Linked DNA regions of Homo sapiens: regions 2 and 3 are each linked to region 1. Evidence: fine-mapped expression QTL. A gene starts in region 1. Each other region holds a variant in brackets. All regions are shown on one strand. Distances are between the middles of the regions. Region 1 holds the start of GYPC (glycophorin C (Gerbich blood group)). Region 2 overlaps LOC105373602 (a long non-coding RNA gene). Region 3 has its middle 110 kb from the start of GYPC.

What was found. PIP is the estimated chance that this variant, and not a neighbour inherited with it, causes the effect. A credible set is the group of variants that fine-mapping cannot tell apart.
Region 2: its variant is the best candidate, but not a certain one, in a credible set for the expression of GYPC in lung (TOPMed, PIP 0.85).
Region 3: its variant is the best candidate, but not a certain one, in a credible set for the expression of GYPC in naive CD4 T cells (Schmiedel 2018, PIP 0.70).

Annotation. Positions count from the first base shown.
Region 1 is chr2:126,653,083-126,659,341 of GRCh38, forward strand. GYPC (glycophorin C (Gerbich blood group)) reads left to right here and starts at 3,076. Exons shown (of 4, transcript NM_002101.5): 1 at 3,076-3,230. The coding sequence starts at 3,182. RefSeq lists enhancers at 2,726-3,015, 3,809-4,648, 4,106-4,355, 4,546-4,775 and a silencer at 3,106-3,475.
Region 2 is chr2:126,583,891-126,590,149 of GRCh38, forward strand. The region is part of intron 2 of LOC105373602 (a long non-coding RNA gene); the gene reads right to left. Among named protein-coding and RNA genes, the nearest start is that of GYPC, 69 kb to the right of the region's middle. The variant G/T (reference allele first, on the strand shown) is at 2,680.
Region 3 is chr2:126,762,258-126,768,516 of GRCh38, forward strand. No RefSeq gene overlaps it. Among named protein-coding and RNA genes, the nearest start is that of GYPC, 110 kb to the left of the region's middle. The variant T/TA (reference allele first, on the strand shown) is at 2,922.

The DNA.
Region 1 (6,259 bases):
AGCATGTGTTACTGTGATGAGGGGCAAAACCTTTCATTAAAGGCCCAAGCAACATCTACCTACCACCATCTGTAAGGGCTCACCCAGGAGACAGCAACAGCAGCAGGGGACCGCCAACTCCACTCCCAATAAGGAACTAGCACTGAGGATTTGGAAGGCAGTTTCCCATGAGCAGTTTCTTCCCTGAAGAGGAAGAGAAAATTCATCTCCAGGACTGGATCATACCATCTCACATCTTGGAGGGCTCTGCAGCTTGTATCAGCCACAGACAGTCAATGAAGACACAGCTAGAACCGTCCATCCCGGCTGCACTGCAGAGCAAGTTCTTGTCACTGTGCTGAACTTCTGGGTTCTCATCTTTACAATGGACTCTTGGCAATACTCCGTTTAAGAGTATTTATGGGAACTAGACAAGATAAGAACTGGTTTATTATTGCAAGATATAGCTGAGTTTTTTTTTTAACTTCATTAATAAATATCCAACACATGAAGACACACTAATAATACATTTCTTGACTTATGTCAGACTGTTACCATATAATTAAATTTTTCACATAATTATTTTCCCTTCTTAAGAGTCATTTATTTAACATTAGACACTTTCATAGTTAAATTTTCTAAAATATGTCAAATGTTTCCCTGTTAGCTAATTTGCTACACACTAAGACACACTATTTACTTTCTTTTTCAAATGACTTGGGGTCCTTACTATGAACAAAGTATGTGTTAGAGGAGGAAGGGGGCCAATATCTTTAAGTAACTCCAGTGTACTCTCATTGTAATTACCTCTTTAATTATTATCGAATATATTACTCACAACAGCCTAACTTTGCAGATTGCTCCAATTTCCAGGCTGAGAAAAATGAGGCTCAGAGAAAGAAAGTGAAATGCTGAAGGTTACGCAGCTAGTAGGCAGTAGAGTAACTAACCCAGATTGAGTTCCAAAGCCCTGTGGTCTTTAATAGCGCAAGGAACTGTCACATCCTCCAGTGATGGCTGGAGCTGAGATTGCTTTAGTTCTGTAACAAATGCTACTTCGTTCTTGTATCTGACCTCTGCAGTTTGTGGGGCTTTCAATTTTCACTGTTTAGTTCGTTAGTTTATTAATTTTTGGCTTATTTTCTGTAAGGAATTCTCTGCAACATTTTGATGCCTTCAACCTGTCTTACCCTAAGAAATTAAGGAAATCTCTTATGATTACGTCTAAGGCCAGTAGGTTCTAAATGAGTCTGTAAAAGTGACTTCTCTAAGTGTGCTGCAATGACCTAATGACTTGTCCGTTGTTACCTGGCAGAACTTTCTGCTTCTTTCCAACTTTCCAGCTGCATTTCAGATAATTAAAGTTATTTTCTCTCAGGACAGAGGAGCGGGACTACTGTTCCACGTAGACGTATGTGTATGTATTACCAAAAAAAAAAGTTAAACTGTTAAAGTAATCACGGGTGCAGTGGCTCACGCCTGTAATCCCAGCACTTTGGAAGGCCAAGGTGGGTGGATCACCTGAGGTCGGGAGTTCGAGACCAGCCTGACCAACATGGAGAAACCCCGTCTCTACTAAAAATACAAAATTAGCCAGGCGTGGAGGCACATGCTGGTAATCCCAGCTACTCGAGAGGTTGAGGCAGGAGAATTGCTTGAACCCAGGAGGCGGAGGTTGTGGTGAGCCGAGATCACGCCGTTGGACTCCAGCCTGGGCAACAAGAGCAAAAACTCCGTCTCAGAAAAATAAATAAATAAATAAATAAAAATAAATTAATCATTACTCATTGCTGTTTATTAAATGCCTTTTCTGTTCCCACTGTGATTCTACAATCACTGCCTCTGTAAAACCCCGGAATGCAGGTGTTCTTGCCTCCATTTTATAGATGAGGAAATCAAGACTCAGGGCTTCCCCACCAGGCCAAAGGCATTCTGTGAGTAGTTTATTTCAATTCAACATGGCTGTGCTGCACATGGCAGTTGGAGTAAAGATCTATCAGCATCGGGGGTTCTTCATGATCTAACTAAAGTGAATCATGAGTGCTTTCCCACTGCGTCAAGAAGGCCTGGAGTTTGTGCAGCCCGGCTAGAGGTGAGCAAAGCCTCTGTGTTGCAAATCTCCAGGGCGCAGCCTCTCATTGTATTCAATGCAGATGACAGTCCCAAAGGCACCGCCCATACATTGTACAGACAGCTGGCCTGGCTCTCCGGATTGTGCAGGATAGGCCTTAATGGCAGAAGGTAGGGGAGAGGTGGGCGTCACAAAAGTGCTTGGGGAACTATAAAGTAAACAATGAAAAGCAGCACAGGAAGGTTCAGACATCACACAGGAGAAGCACAGGGTGTTCCCCTGGGTGGGGATTTAAAACAAGGGCCTCAAGTTCCCTGCCCTTGTCTCTGGGCAGAAGGGGCAGATAATGCTATGATACATTTTTTGTAGGTGGTGCCATTTGACTGCATTTAACCAACAAAGGTATGTATCGAAATCCACGTGGAGATTTTCATGGCAAAAGTAGAGCGAATTCACAAACTGCACTGTGTCTGGCAGCTTCAGACAAAAGCAATGGGAACAAATCACGACTCTTGTCCAGCAATTCTTCCTGTTTTGGAATGATCTTTGCTCAACAGCCCATCCATGAGTACAGGGCCCCCAAAGGCCAACAAGACAGGGACTCTCTCCAGGGACAAATGCCCCGCAGCTGAGAGAGGCCGCCCAGCTATCCAGCGGCCGCGCAGCCAGCCAAGATTTCAACACAGGTCTGCCCTATTTGGTCACCATCCCCGACAGTGCTGGGCCAGGCCATCATGTCACATTGGGGAGTTTTCCCTGCACTCCAGGGGGAATTCTCAACCACAACCTCTGTATCCGGTAGTGGCAGATGGAAAGAGAAACGGTTAGAAAAGCGTGGTTCTTGCGCAGGAAAGTTGGAGCAAAGAAGAGTTCAGAAGTGGGCGGGTGTGTGTTTAAAAAAAAAAAAGGGGGTGGAAACCCCACCAGCCAAGTCTGCAGAAAAAAAATAAATGAAGTCTGCCTATCTCCGGGCCAGAGCCCCTCCCCTCGGCCCGCGCGGGAGGAGTGTGACCCAGGTGCCGCTTCCTCTCGCCGCCGAGGGTCAGGAGCCCGGGAGCGCGACCCTCCCCCGGCCCGGCCTGGCCCGGCCTGGCCAGTCCCCGCGGTCTCTGCCCGGGCTGACGCCCAGGAATGTGGTCGACGAGAAGCCCCAACAGCACGGCGTGGCCTCTCAGCCTCGGTGAGTACCCGCCGTGGGGAAGGGTCCTGGGGACCCACTGGAGGCCGCGGCCCGCAGCAGCCAGGGGCCGAGCCACGGCCACGGACGCCCTGGTGTCCCGGTCCGTGCCGGGCCTCCAGGCGGAGGAGGCGTCCGCTGGGCTCAGATCCCCGACTCCAGCCCCGGTTCCCCGGCGCCTGGGCTGCGCGGAGTCCCTGTCCCGCGTCCCGGACCCCTACGCGCAGCCTCCACGCGCTCCGAGCTGGAGAAGCCGCCAGCCCGCCCTCCCAGGGCGTGTCGCCCGCTTTCTGTTTCTTTGTGCGGGGCATGTGAAATGTGTGGGGCCAGAATTGTCTCCCTAAAGAACAGTTAGGTGAGAGTTCACATCACAAGTTGCTTCTGTGCTGCTCCCCAGCCAGGGTCCGACCGGCCAGGCTCCGGTGAACTCCAGGCAACTCCAGCCTTGCCCAGGGACTTGCTCGCTCCGCTGGGCGCCGCAAAGGCACACAGATGCGAGGGAATCCTGCGGCCTGGATCCTTTGGGGATTTGTAATTCCTCGCTGCTGGTTTTCTCTTTTAAACCATCACGTTTTCTTGCTGAGAGGAAATCATCTGTGATGAAAGTCTTTGTAGATGCTTGGAAACATTGCTGGGCCTCTCTCTGCCCTCTTCCTCTGCCGTTGGACTTTTGCAATAAAAACTACCATTTGATTTTACCAAAAAACGTAATGTACATCCCTCTTACCCCCACCCTGCCGCGGTCTGATTCTTAGAGTCTGTCAGAGAGGAGATACCCTGAGCCTATCATGTGACAATGATACCTTATTGATATGATAATGATATGGGTATTGGAGACACCAACTCTTTTATAAGTCTTTGAAATCCAGGGGGTTGTGAGGCCTCACCCCTCACCCCGCCTGAGCTTGGAGCTTGGCGTGGAGGAGTGCTGCTTCGGTCTACGTGTGTACACGGCACTCCATGTGCCTGTGGTTGTGCTTGCGTCAGCCTGGGAGTGCGCAGGCATCAGTGGTGCTTGGGAGCGAGGCCCCTCAGTCTGCACTGGGATCATCTGCACTGCCTATAAACAAGGCAGCCTCTCTTAGCTCCAGTTTCCTCATCTGCAAAGTAGGAAAGTAGGAATAATAACAGGAGATAACTCATCCAGCAGCACGAAGTGCGTATAAATGTCCCGGCACGGAGTCTGACACATCCTAAGTGCTGGATCCGTGCTGGGCATGTTTATATAATTGCACATGAGACTGTGGTTCCCGGAGCACGTAACTTGAGCATATGTTTATGTGTGTGTATACGGCAGGTCCTGGGTTAAAGGGACAGGAGCCACTGTCATTATTCCAATTCAGTCACTGAGGAGGTGAGGCTGAGAGGCATTCTCATGTCTGAAGAGGATGGGCTTGCCTGACCCCCGCCCCCGTGCCCAGCCCAGCCCAGCAGCCCAAGCAGTTCTCCAGGACTCAGGTTTCAGACCTTCAACACTTGCCTTGGGAGACAAACAGCGGTGCAGCCCTTGCTTGCAAGCCATTCCACATTAGACTTCGGATTGATTTATGGCAGGATCCCTGCTGTGCGAGAACTGCAGGGGGGGTGGGGGGCGGCTATTTCTTGCTGCTAACTCAGGCAGGATGTGTCTATATCCTGTCTCAGTTTATGTAGCTGCTCATCAGAGCCAGAGGTTAGAGCGGAGAGGACCCACTTCCGCCAGGCCGGCCTGCTCTGCTCAGCTCAGCTGGGCTAGGCCCCAATGCCACAGTTACTGCGCGTGAGTCATGCACAGCAATCCATTGCCTTGCCCTTGGATGGAAGGGGTCAAGGCTCAGTGAGAAGACGGCCAGGTTTGGCAGCTTTATATAGAATTCACCGCCTCTGGCAGAAGCAGAGGATTGCATTAAGTGCCAAATGAAATTCCACCTCAGCCATTGCTCAATTCCTCCAGATGTCACTGGCACTGGGAGTCACATGATGCTGGTGGTCAGCAGCTGGACCCTTCCAAGGGTGCCCGTGGTTGGGCAAGTATTTCTGGGGACTTGCAGAGCTCCCTGGGGAGCAAAGGGTTGTGAAGTACAAGGCATTCTGCGCTTGTGGTGGGAACAAGTGAACCCATCTGCAGTGAGTAGGAAGAGGTCCCCTCAACAGAGGTGAGAGGTTGGGCCAAGTCAAGTCAGTTTGCCTCTTCAGGTGGCAGACCTGTATGTACATCTATGCCTCAAGTGCCTGTCTGAGGCCACAGCCAAAACATCTTCCAGTAACTGAGCATACCCAGTGGGCCAACAAGCACGCTCTAAATACAAAACCAAACAAACAGTAAAGTTAACAGTGAATGAAGAGTTAAAAATAGGAGAAAGACACCTTCTCCCTACCTCAATGGCAATTACTTTATTTATTGAGGATAATCCTTCTAGAAGTAAATTTGCTGATACAAATATTTCTTATTTTACATAATAAAAATGCATTTTATATATTTTACTTCATCTTGTTTTTTTTCCATCAGAATATCTCTTAAAGGTTATACCTTGTTATTTTCTTTAATCAGTTCCTCTGCTGATGGGCATTTAGGCTGTATGCAGACTTCATTTAATTTTTTTAAACCACACACAGCAGTCCTGTGACAATGAGTAAGGAGGATTTTACATGCATGTGTCTGTAAACTGTTAGGATAAATTCTCCCACCTCAGCATTTGATTTCTGGGACAAAGTGTGTATTCATTTAAAATGTTAGTAGATCTTAAGAAACTACCCTCCTAAAGGTCACACCGGTTTCTCATGCTCACAAATAGCCTATGAAAGTCACTATTTCCCTGCGTCCTCACTCACACTGCATTTTTTATCTTGGCCAAACTGAGAGGTAAAACAACAAAACAAACGCTGTCACTTTGGAATGAGCCTCTGTAATTAAGTGAGACTGAGCATGTTTTCTTACTTCCATAAGAGGTTGTATTACTTTTCGGGGAAGTGTCGGTTGATGCTTTTGTCCATTTCCTGTCAGCACCCCACCCCCGTGAGGAAACGTGCCCCAGAAGTGAAAGGACATGTCC
Region 2 (6,259 bases), 69 kb before region 1:
GAATAGGTTGTAGATAAAGAGGCAACATTTGCTTTGTCCATCTGGGCAGTGGCATGTGTGAATATTCAACCTCATCAAATGCATATAATATCTGTGTTTCCATTTGCATGAATAAATAAATGTGCATTTGCCACATTTCAGTTGGTCAATCTATAGTGGATCATCACCATTCCTTCGTGATTATCAACCGCATGTACCAGACATGGTGCTGCCTTTTATACACAACCTTACCATACTGCAAGTTAGATGGGACTACCCTATTTTACAGATGTGGAAACTGAGACTGGAGAATTTCAGTGTCACATGCAGGGTCACTCAGCTGGTAAGTGACAAAGTCAAGTTCCCAACCCAAATGTGTCAGACGCCAAGACATGTGTTCCTTTCCTACGCCTGGCAGAATCTGGAAAGCCACATAGTAGGAAAGAATAGGACAATGGCAATAGAGAAAGGGTGGAAAGAGCCTTCCAGTTTAGGGTGAGCAAAACCTGGACACCACGGCAGTGACAGAAGATGAAATTAGGAAAAAGACAGGCTCCAGGAAGGTTCTGGTGTGATGAAGCATTGAGGATACATAGGCTGGGGGCATTGCAGGGAGTGAGGTTGCCAAAGGAGGCCGGATCCTGCAGACCTGCTTGGTGGCAGGTGGAGAATGGAGGCAATAGACTGCCAAAGGGCCCTGTTTCTCCAAGTAACAGAAGTTTCTTGCCTCTTGTGACAACTGCAGGGCCAAGCAGCCCTCTACTCATGAGGCAGAAGTGTGTGTCACATCAGCCAACTGCTCCCATAACATAATTCCCCTACCTTGTACCTGCAGTGCACATGCTGTCCAGGGGTGGGTCCTCTGGCTGTCAAAGATTATTATTGAGGAATTTCAGCCCAGGCCTTCCTCACAGAACAGTGTGTCTATGTCTACACTTGCCAAACCTATAAGACTGGCCCACCTTGTGCTCCAATCCTAAGGTACACTCTAGTGTCGAGATAGGAGATGAGTCTCAACAGCTAATGGATACCATATGGCCAAATTCCATAAATCTGTGTGGTGAAGTCAGGGGTCATCTGCCTGGACAAATCCCAGCTCCACCTCCACTTGTTGTGAGACCTTAGGCAAGCCCTTGCTTCCCTAGCTCTTATTTCCTCACTCTAATATTGGAATAATAGCATCTATTTGATAGTGCTCTTTATAAGGACCAAGTCAGTTCACTCCTGTAAGACACTCATTCCCAGAAGACACTCATTGCATGTTAGCTATTGTTAATAAGTTACTCCTTCCAGTAAACACGACATTCATGGGAGATAATGTTTCCTTCATAAACAGGAATGAGACTCCCAGTTACTGATGGCAGAATGTGAAGGAAAGTGTGGGTTTCAGTATTTGGCAGCACAGGGTTCCATGCATGCTCCCAAGACTTCAGAGGTATAGGGGCCCCAATGTGCAATGGCAGCCTGGGAGAGAAGCAGGCACTTAACTCCAGCCTGTGAGATCTGCTACAGCATGAATAGAGAGAGGGTCCCCAGAAGCCTTGGAGACCCAGCCCTTACCCCATTGTGTCCTGAAGGCAGGACATGGAGTCAAAGAAGATAATTCTCAAGTCTTGAGATTTAGTGTTCTCTTTGTTGGGTTTAGACTAACTTGGTACCTGTTACTCCTTTCTTCTTGCCTATTCTCCTATGTCTGTCCTGTGCCTGTCCCATGATTGTATTTTGGAATCCCATAACTTGCTTGATTTCAGACTCACAGCTAAAGGGAAATTTGCCTCAGGATGAACCGTGCCTTGAGCCTAACCCATATCCAATTTAGATGAGACTCTGGACTTTGAACTTTTGAGTTCATGCTGAAATGCGTGAAGACTTTGGGGGGTGATGGGATAAAACAAATGTATTATGCATGTCATGAATTTTGGCAGGTATTTCGGGGCCAGGATTGGAAGGCTTTGGTTTGAATGTGTCCCCTCCAAAATGCAGATGTTGCCAATGTAGTCAGATTAAGAAGCGGGGCTTTTTAGAGGTGATTAGGCCATAAGGGCTTCTCCCTGGTTAATGGGATTAAGACCTTTATAAAAGAGGCTTCACACAGTGTTCAACTAGTTTGCCTTCCTATTTTTTAGCATGTGAGACCCAGCATTCATGGAGCCAACCTGGAAGCAGAGAGCAGCCCTCACCAGACACCAAACCTGCCGATGCCTTGATTGTGGACTTTCCAGCCTCCAGAACTGTAAGAAATAAATTTCTTTTCTTTATAAATTACCCAGTCTCAGGTATTCTGTTACAGCAGCATGAAATAGACTAAGACAGTGAGGATGTAGAATTTCAATTTGGGTAGGTGAAAAAACTCTGGAGATGAATGGTGATGATAGTTTCAAAAGAATGTAATTATACTTAATTTCACTAAATTGTACATTTAAAATGGTTAAAATGGTAAATTTTCTGTTAAGTATGTTTACCACAATTAAAAACACCTTCTAAAGTCTTCCCATGGCCAATAAAGCAAAGCTCAATCTCTCCGGCCAAATGCGCAACTGTTCTCATGGGCTGGGCACATGTGCTAGTCTGGCGTGGTCACTTTCCATTTCCTACCCACAGTTCAGCTACAGTGAGTTCCCTGGTGTCCCTGGAGTGTACCCTTCTCTCATTTCCGTGCTTTGTGTATGTGCTTCTGTCCACTGGGAATTTCCTTTGCTT[G/T]TTTTTTCCCCTTTGTCTACGCTTACTCTGGGTCACTCAGCTCACATGCCGTGCTCCTCTGGGAAATCTTCTTCGATCCTCAGGATGGATCAGCTTTGCTTTCCTGGTGCTCCCGCTGCTTTATGAGAGCATTGATAACACTGCAATCTAATCATCCCATAACAATGCAAGGGGGAACACCTATTAGAAAGAAATAAAGCCATATTGTGTTCACATTTTAATGAGAGGAGAAAATTCCGTCCATAAAAATAGACCCAGAAGTGACATAGACAATATAATTAGTAGACAAAGATGTTAAATCAGTTCTTATAACTACATTCCACATGCATAAGAAAAAAAGGGACGCGTGAGCATGGTAAGCAGAGATATGGAGCATAAGTAAAGGACTCCAATAACATTCCTAGGTGCAAAAAAACATAATGTTGGAGATTTAAAATATAATGAATGGGATTAAAAGTACATTATACATTACAGATGAAAAAGGGGTAAACTTGAAAATATAAAAATAGAAACGACAAGATGAAAAACAGAGAGAAAAAAGGGATAAAAAATGAAAAGCGAATCAGTGAGTTATGGAAAAACTTCAAGAAACCTAATCTATGTATAACTAGAATATGTGAAGAAGATAAAAAGAGAGTAGAAATAGAAAAACACATACTTGATGAAATCATTGCCAAAAATATTCAAAGTTGATAAAAACTAGAAACCCACAGATCCTAAAACTCAAGGAACTACAAATACAAGAAATATGAAGAAAACCACACCATAATGCATCATAGTTGAAAATATTAAAACCAGTGATAGAGAGAAATCTTAAAACCAGCCAGTAAAAAAAGTCTCATTACATACAAAATGGTAAGAATGACAGAAGTCTTCCCATTGGTAAAAATGAACACAAGTTAATAATAGTGGGACATCTTTAAGGTACTGAAAGAAAAGAAGTCAACTTACTATTAAAAAAAAAAAACTCGGCAAAAATATCTTTCGAAAACAAAACTGCCTGGGTGCAGTGGCTCATGCCTATAATCCCCACACTTTGGGAGGCCAAGGTGGGAGGATTGCTTGAGGCCAGGAGTTCAAGATTAGTGTGGGCAACATTGTGAAACCCCATCTCTACAAAAAAAATAAAATAAAATTAGCCGGGTGTGGTGATGCGTTCCTGTAGTCCCAGCTGCTGGGGAAGCTGAGGCAGGAGGATCATTTGAGCCCAAAGAGGTCGAGGCTGCAGTGAGCTATGATTGCACCACTGCACTCCAGCCTCAGAGACAGAGCAAGACCCTGTCTCAAGAAAAAAAAGAAAACAAAGATTTTCATAGGCAAACAAAAGCTGAAAGGATTTATCATTAGCTACCCTGCACTACAAAAAATATTATGGAAAGTCTGTTAGAAAGAAAATGACATCAGATGAAAAACTCTATGTAAAAGAACAAAGAACTCCAGAAATAATAAATATGTCAGTTAAATATATATATATATATATTCTTCTCATTTTAAAAATATCTTTAGAACATAATTGATTGCTTAAAATAAAAATAATAGCAATGTATTGTGAAATGTATAAAATACATAGAAGTAAAATGTATGGCAACAACAGCACAACAGCCAGGAGGGAAACACAGAAGTATAACATTACAAATTTCTTATATCATGTGGGAAAGGGTGTGATATTACTTATGGGTAAACAGTGATAGGTACAAGATGCTAACTATAAATCCCAAAGCAAACATTGCTATGATACACAGATTCTTCAGGTGGCCCCTCAATCCACTCCTCTGAGTGTTCATGCTTTTGCGGGATCCCTTCCTCTTGAGTGTGGGTTGGACCTGTAACTTCTTTCCATTCAATAGAATATGAGAAAAATGATAGAATGTATGTGATTATGTTATACAATATTGCAACATTCATCTCGCTAAAGTCTGTCTATAATTTGGAATAAAATAATGGAGTGAATGTTTTCCCACTATATCATAAATAAACAATATCTACTGTTATAACTCCTATTCAACATTATAATTAATGCTTTACCCAATACAATACAGCAAGAAAAATAGATGGCATAAGGTTGTAAGGAGGAAAAAAAGCTCCCTCTATTTGCAATTGTTGATTGCATAGAAAACGATAAAGAATTAACCAAAACAACCACTAGAAGTAATAAGTGAATTTAGCTATGTTGCTCGACACAAGGTCAATATATAAAAATCAATTGCATTTCTATGCAATAGCAATGAAAAAATTGGAAATAGAAAATGTTAATATAATTTATAAATGTATAATAATGCCAAAAAATATGATACTTAGGTATAACTATAGCAAAAATGTGAAAGACCTTTATGGTAAAAATTATAGGATACTGGTAAGAGAAATGAAAGATATCCTAATTAAATGTTAAGATATGCCTTGTTCATGGATTAGAAGACTTAATATTGTTAAGAATTCATTTCTGTCTAAATTAAAACATATATACAACCCAATTTCAACGAAAATTCTGGCAGAATTTTTAGAAATAGGAAAAGTGATTCTAAGATTTGTGTGGAAAGGCAAAGGAACTAGAATAGCCAAAACAGATTTTACAAAATAGAACCAACTTTGAGGAATTTTAATAACTGATTCAATACTCAGTTATAAAACTACATTAATGAAGACATGGAATACTATCAAAAGGACAGACACAAATGTCAATTGAACAGAATAAAGAGGCTAGAGTTAAACCGACATATACGTGATTGTTTTTACAAAGGTGCAAAAGTACTTCCTTGGAAAAAACATAGTCTTTTTCATAAGTGGTTCTAGAACAATCAGTTATTTACATGCAATAAAAAATATCAATCCTTTCCCCAAAGCACATATAAATTGATCAATTGGACTTTATCTGACTTTAAAAGTTAAAAAGACAATTTGCAGATTGGGAGAAAATAATTACGAATCCCATATCTAATAAAAAACTTGCATACAAATTACACAAAAAGACTTTCAAAACTCAAAAATATGAAAACTAATAGCCCAATTTTTTAAATGAGAAAAGACATTAATAGACACTTCACCAAAGAAAATATGAGAATGACAAAATAATCATAGAAAAGATGATCATTATTATTAGTTATCAGGGAAAAGCAAATTAAAATCACAATGAGTATCACTATACACCTCCTAGGAGGAATGTTTTTTTTTTTTTTTTTAACTGAAAATGCCACGTTCTGCTAATGGTGTAGAATAGCTATAATACATAACACTTTGTTGGTGGGAATGCAAAATGGTAGATATTTGTAAAACAAAGTGCCAGTGTCGTATAAAGTAAAACATAGATTTACCATGTGGCTCAGAAATTCTCCTTGGTATTTACCTTAGTGAAATGGAAACTTATATTTGTACAAAAACCTATGCATTCGTGTTTACAGTGGCTTCATTTTGTAATCCCTCAAACTAGTAAACTCCAATTTTTCTCTAAGAAACTAATAAATACAGTGTGATATGTCCATATAATGAAATACTACACAGCAATCAAATGGACATGGAATATCACTGGAGACATGGAAGCTACGAAACAAAACCGAATGAAAATTTTAGAACTAAAATGAGCACT
Region 3 (6,259 bases), 110 kb after region 1:
AGTGGAAGCATACATTAAAGGCCCCACCCCCTCCAAAAAAAGTTTCTCCAACAGCAACCAAAGGAAGAGCAGGCCACAAGCTGGTGCTCTACACACCCAGACAGGAAGCCGCCCACCTCACCGAGGCTAACCTGCCCCACCCCAAAGAACACACTGGCAAGTCTGAAAAACGCTGAGCATTCTCACGAGCACCCTCAAGCCCAGAGTGAAGAAAACTGGAGTTGAAGGAGTGGGGGTCTTGTCCTTTCTTACTGAAAAAAATGGAAGTGGTTGCTGGCTACTGGGACATGAGTAAAGGTCTAACCCTCCCCTAACCCCACCTCTAGTAATGGGGAACAGGTTCATGCAGGTGTTTTTCCCAGTGTCAACACTTCAGCCATCTGAGGCAAGCCCCAGCCCAGGGCTCTCAGAGCCTGTACCCTATCCATCCCTGTGCCATGCCCTCAGGCTGCAGTAATCCAGTGAAACAGAGGCTCTCAAGGGGGAAGTAAGGTGCCTCAGACAAAGAAGAAAGTCACCACAGTGTTGAGTGGAGCAGACAGAAGCTCTGGACAATGCTGCCTGAGCAGAAGGCAAGATTAAAAAAAAAAAAAAAAGATTCACTTACACAAAGGAGCACAGATATGCACAGTATACACTAACACACACACACGTACACACACACTAACAATGAAGAAAAGGGAAAGAGCATTCAAGAACAAAGAACCCTACCTAGAAGAAAACATCACTCAAGGAGTGAAAAGAAATGTTCCAGAATTGCTTTAAAGTACAACTTAAAAGGGTGTAAAGTCAATAACAAGAGAGCTCAGTGACAGAATGATAAAACAGAACGAAGTGAAAAAACATTATAGACATACAGAAGCAAATTAATATCAAAACATCATTACAGATAACACATTAGAAACAGCAAGAAACAGAATAAACACTACTGAAAATAATTGCTTTTCTGCAGGAAAAGCTTCAGGAAATGTTTACTGAACAACACATACAGCACACTTACTGCATGCCAGTACTGTTCTAAGCACTTTACTAACTATTAATCCTCATAATAATCCTGAGGTAAGGACAAGTATTAACTGCATTTTACAAAGGACAAAAACAAGAAACTGAGAGGTTAAGTATCTTCCCAAGGTCACACAGCTAATATGTGGCAGTCTGGCTCCAGAGTCCTTGCAATGAACCATTTCACTATGACGAGTAATAATAATGTTAAAAATCCATAATAATAAAAATCACAACCACTTTTCCACGACTTGCTCTGGTCTGAGCACTGTTTCTTAAGAGCTTTACATATATTAAGTCTTTTAATCCTAGGAGCTGTCCTGAGATAGGTATATTATTCCAACTTTATATGAGGCAGCAGGCTCAGTGAGGTTAAGTGACTGGATAATGAACGTAGATGAAGAAAGGAAAGAGAGCAGAAAAGATACAGTAGTTTTCCTTTCTCTGAGGTTTCCATTACCTCTGATCAACTACAGTCTAAAAATATTAAATTGAAAATTTTAGGAATGATCAATTCATAAGTTTTAAACTGTGCACTGTTCTGAACAGCAGCAATGAAATCCCACCAACCCACTCCATCCCATTTGGGACATGAATCATCTCCTTGGTCTCATGCATCTGTGTTGTATATATGACCTGCCCATTAGTTACTCACTAGCCATCCCAGTTATCAGATCAAAAAAACACAGCACAGTTGGCCTTCCATATCCATGGGTTCCACATCTGTGGATTCAACCAACTGTAGATAGTTGATTGATACACACGAAGTGGATGGTTGCAGCTGTACTGAACACATACATACTTTTTTCTTCTCATCATTCCCTACACAATATAGTCCAGCAACTATTTACACAGCATTTACTTTATATTAGGTATCATAAGTAATCTAGAATTGATTTAAAGTATAAAGAGGATGTTTGTAGATTACACTCCAATACTATGCCATTTTGTTTAAGGGGCTTGAGAATCCTCAAATTTTGGTATTCAGGGGAATCCTGAAACCAATCCCCCGTGGATACGGAGGGGATGACTATATACATAGGATTTGGTACTATCCTCGGTTTCAGGCATCCATTGGGGGCCTTGGAATGTATCTCCTGTGGATAAAGGACACTACTATAGCAGCGAGCGGAAACAGACAATAGGAATGAAAGCCTGTCCTAACACTTGCAATGGATAATGTCTTCTTTTCAAAGTTTCTGAAATTGCGGAGAAAAAAATAGTCTGTAGATTAAAAGAATGCACATTCTAATCGGGGAAATTTTTATATAAAGCACATAATACTGAAATGTCTTATTTCCTAGATAACTATTAAAATTAAAGAATAAGGAAAGAATTTTCCAGCCATTCTGACAGACAATAAATAACCTAAAAAGGTAAAAAGCATATATATGAATCCACAGCAATAGCAATGTCAAAGACAAGGGAGTATTGTCTACAAGTCCTGAAGGAAATAGCAGATCATAATATCCAGCCAAGATGCCATCGAAGCATAGAAACCAAGATGACTTTTAATATCACTTAGGCAATTGGTAAACTTATGCAAGCATGAAAAAAAAAGAAGCTCAGAGATTACCAAATCCAGTAGTCTTTCCCTGAAGCAGTACTTTGCAAAAAAAAAAAAAAAAAAAAAATCTAGACGTAAAAGGAATCAAAATAAAATCCAAGGATGAAGAAATGATTATTTAAAAAATGGTGGTGGGCGTAATATCCAGCCAAGATGCCATCTAAGTATAGAAACCAAGATGACTTTTAATGTCACTTAGGCAATAGATCAATTTATGCAGGCATGAAATAAGAAGCTCAGAGATTACCAAATCCAGTAGTCTTTCCCTGAAACAGTATTTTGCAAAAAGAAAAAAAAAATCTAGACAAAAGAGGAATCAAAATAAAAACTCAGGGATGAAGAAATGAGATTT[T/TA]AAAAAATGGTGGTGAGCAGTGAATCTGTTTACATCTATAACTAATATGGAACAAATATAGGAACCCTGTTTATATAACAGAATATGGATGTTGTATGTCCAGATCAAATAAAACACAAATAACAATGAAAAGTTGGTCAGAGGTTATACAGGGGAAAAATGTAAATGGCACTGATACTCTCATCTTCCATAAATGGGAGTCAATCAATACTGTATAAAATTGACTAGCTAAAAATGTCTTCAACCTTGTAGTGATTTAATAATCTCTCTCCCTTTTAAACGTGACAGGATCTCGCTTATTTTGTTGCCTCTGATAGCCTTTGTCTAGACCTGGGTAGCAATAAATAATAATGAAACAAGCCATCATCTATGGCGTGCTCATTTTGCATCAGGCTCTGCAGCAAGCCTTGCAGATGCCCACCAAGCCTGGGGTCTGAAGGATGTCAGAGGGGTCTGAGTCTGAGTGGGTGGTGGAATAGCCCAAGAGGTCTGAGGCCACTACTGGGCTTCCAAGCACTGTGCTCACTTTGCTCCTAACCAAGCTGATCAGCTGGCAGCAGCTAGGAGTTCCATTCAACATCAGGCATCACAGAACAGGGACAAAGCAAACTGGCAATGGCCATGGCATCAAGGAGTTGGTCCTGCTGGGTCAACTCCTGTTCACTCACCTGGGAAGAAGGCAGTACATTTCAAAAATATTTCTATATGAAATTATTACACAGTGTGAGATTGTAAGTGCAAAAGCAAGGTAGAAAGTGCATTTTAAAAATTCTAATGGCAAGCACTGTTTGTATTTAAAGAAATGATTCAACATAAAACGTAGAGTGAAGGCTGCTCTCCAGATACCCGGTGAAGCTCAAACAGTGCTTGCTGAGCTGCCAGGCTGTGGAATTGGGGGGTGGGGTAAACCAAGTTTACTTTCATCTCCAAGGCCACAAAGACCACAAAGGCCACAAAGATGTCAATCTGGGATGTAACTCAAAAAATATGGAAGGTATGTTTTTATAAAAAAAATCTTTTCTATAATTGGACATAATTTCTATTTCAAGCCCCAATTCTGCTGATTCCAGAAAATTTAATCACATGCATTTCATGTGCATGATACTCTTTTCCTCTAGTGCGTTCAGTTTTCTTCCCAAGTTTCTCACCAGGGTGGTATCCGAGCTCTGAAGGACTTCATAGGGAGGGTGTCTGGTCCTTGGCCATGGCCTGTGGTGCTCCTGGGAGCTGCTGAGATGACCAGCACTCCATTGTTGTCTCTGGTCTCCACTGTCTAAGAGGATGTTCTCCTACAGAGGCTCCAGGCTCCCCTCTGGGCACTGTTCTCTCGCCAGCAAGTACTCCTCTCAGAAGCCTGAAAGTCTGCAGATGCTCTCCTGCCCCAGTCTGGGACATTCCAAGGTTTTCTCATTTATCTCACTGCCCGGTCCATTCTACTATGTCAGGCCAGGGGTGGTGGGAAGACAGGGGGCTCAAGGAATTTTCTGCTTCCCTGAGCCTCTTCCCACTCCAATCCCAAGGAAGGAAGCAAAGTCCTTCTCTACCCAGAGATGCCCAATCCACCCGACCCGAAGTGGCTCTGTTGTTCCTCCACACATAGGAACCTACAGGCAAGCACTGCTTCCTTTGGTCCCCCCAGGGAAAGTCCAAAATGTTTCAGCGTCAAAGTCTAAATTGAAAAGCAGTTGGGTTAAAAGAGGAATTACCAAGAACAAAATTCACACTGTTACTATATCAAAATACTGCCAGCCCCTTGGATACAATGTATATGACTGCAGACAGCACAACCACACACAGAAAGAGATGCATCTCTGTGAAGAGAGGGATAAGCTGCGATTTTCTGGAAAATCTCCTCATACCTTCCCCAGCCCGCTACTCCTCCCCTCTGCAGGATCCTCTAGGCTTCGCTGGCCTCCCTGATGTGGATCCCTGGACTCTGCAGAGCTCAGCTCCCTGCAGCTCTGAGCGCTCTGATGTGACGGCCTTGGGAGGGAGTATAGGCGGAGTGCCCAGTGCTGTGATCCACATGGGGATCCTAGGTCTGTGCCCCACCCCAGAGGAGGACACAGCAAGCCAGCGTGGTGTCTGTGAGGACCCCCAACCCCAGTGCCTATGCCAGGAACAGCCCCCGATAGCAGGACCTAGAGCCAGCAGCTTCTACGCAGGTGGAAACTGCTGGACACTTAAGATCGAAATCACGTTTGAGTCAACTGGCCCAAGTGTTCAACATCTAACATTAAGAGACAGCAGGGCTCAGTGACTCTACCCCCATCTTGTGATGTTGGTTTCACATGATTACCCACCTTCCCTGGCATCATCTCCACACTGGCGAGTGACTAGCGTATGGAAAATTCAATGAAAACATCCCCCTCTGCAGCAGTTGCTGCTCCTCCATTGCTTGCTCTTGTGTGCTCTCTCTCTCTCTCCCTCTCTCTCTTCTTTCCTCTCTCACTCTCTCATCTCAACAATTGGTGTCTTCTTTTATAAACAGGGATAGCAATAGCCCCATGCCCACTTGGGAAGGAAGCCCCCTCCCCAGGGGCAGTAGCACAAGAGGAGGCACCTCCTGGGGGCTCCAGAGTGTTTTCTCTGGGACAGCAATGCAAGGGAAGACTCAGAGGAAACACACACAGAGCTGGAGTCATGGGTGGGCTCCGATCCCAGCCTATCTGGAAATTTGCTCTGTCTCCTTACGGAGTTTCACTTGGCAAAACCTTGGGTTGCTTCTGACCACATCTCCTCTTAGGGTTGTGGAGGCTCAGATGGAGGACAAGTATGCACTTGGCACAATGCCGTGAGCACAGTACTGCTGGGAACCTCCGTGCCCACCCCCTTACCCAGCCTTTTTGTTCTGAAGAAGATGTATTAGTCTGTTCTCATGCTGCTATGAAGAAATACCCAAGACTGGGTAATTTATAAAGAAACAAGGTTTAATTGACTCACAGTTTTGCATGCCTGAGGAGTCCTCAGGAAACTTACAATCATGGTGGAAGGCACCTCTTCCCAGGGTGGCAGGAGACAGAATGAGTACCAAGTGAAGGAGGAAGCCCCTTATGAAATCATCAGATCTCATGAGAACTCACTCACTGTCATCAGAACAGTATGGGGGAAACCGACCCCATGATTCAATTATCTTCACCTCGTCCCGCCCTTGACACGTGGGGATTATTACAATTAAAGGTGAGATTTGGGTGGGGACACAGAGCCAAACCATTTCAGAGGAGAAGGCCAGTAAGGGCCTGGCCAGTTTCTTCTAGACCCCACCCTATGCTTGGCACCCCTAGACACATGGCATGGTCACCATGACCTTCTGGGCAGCCAATCTCTGCCACTTCCTG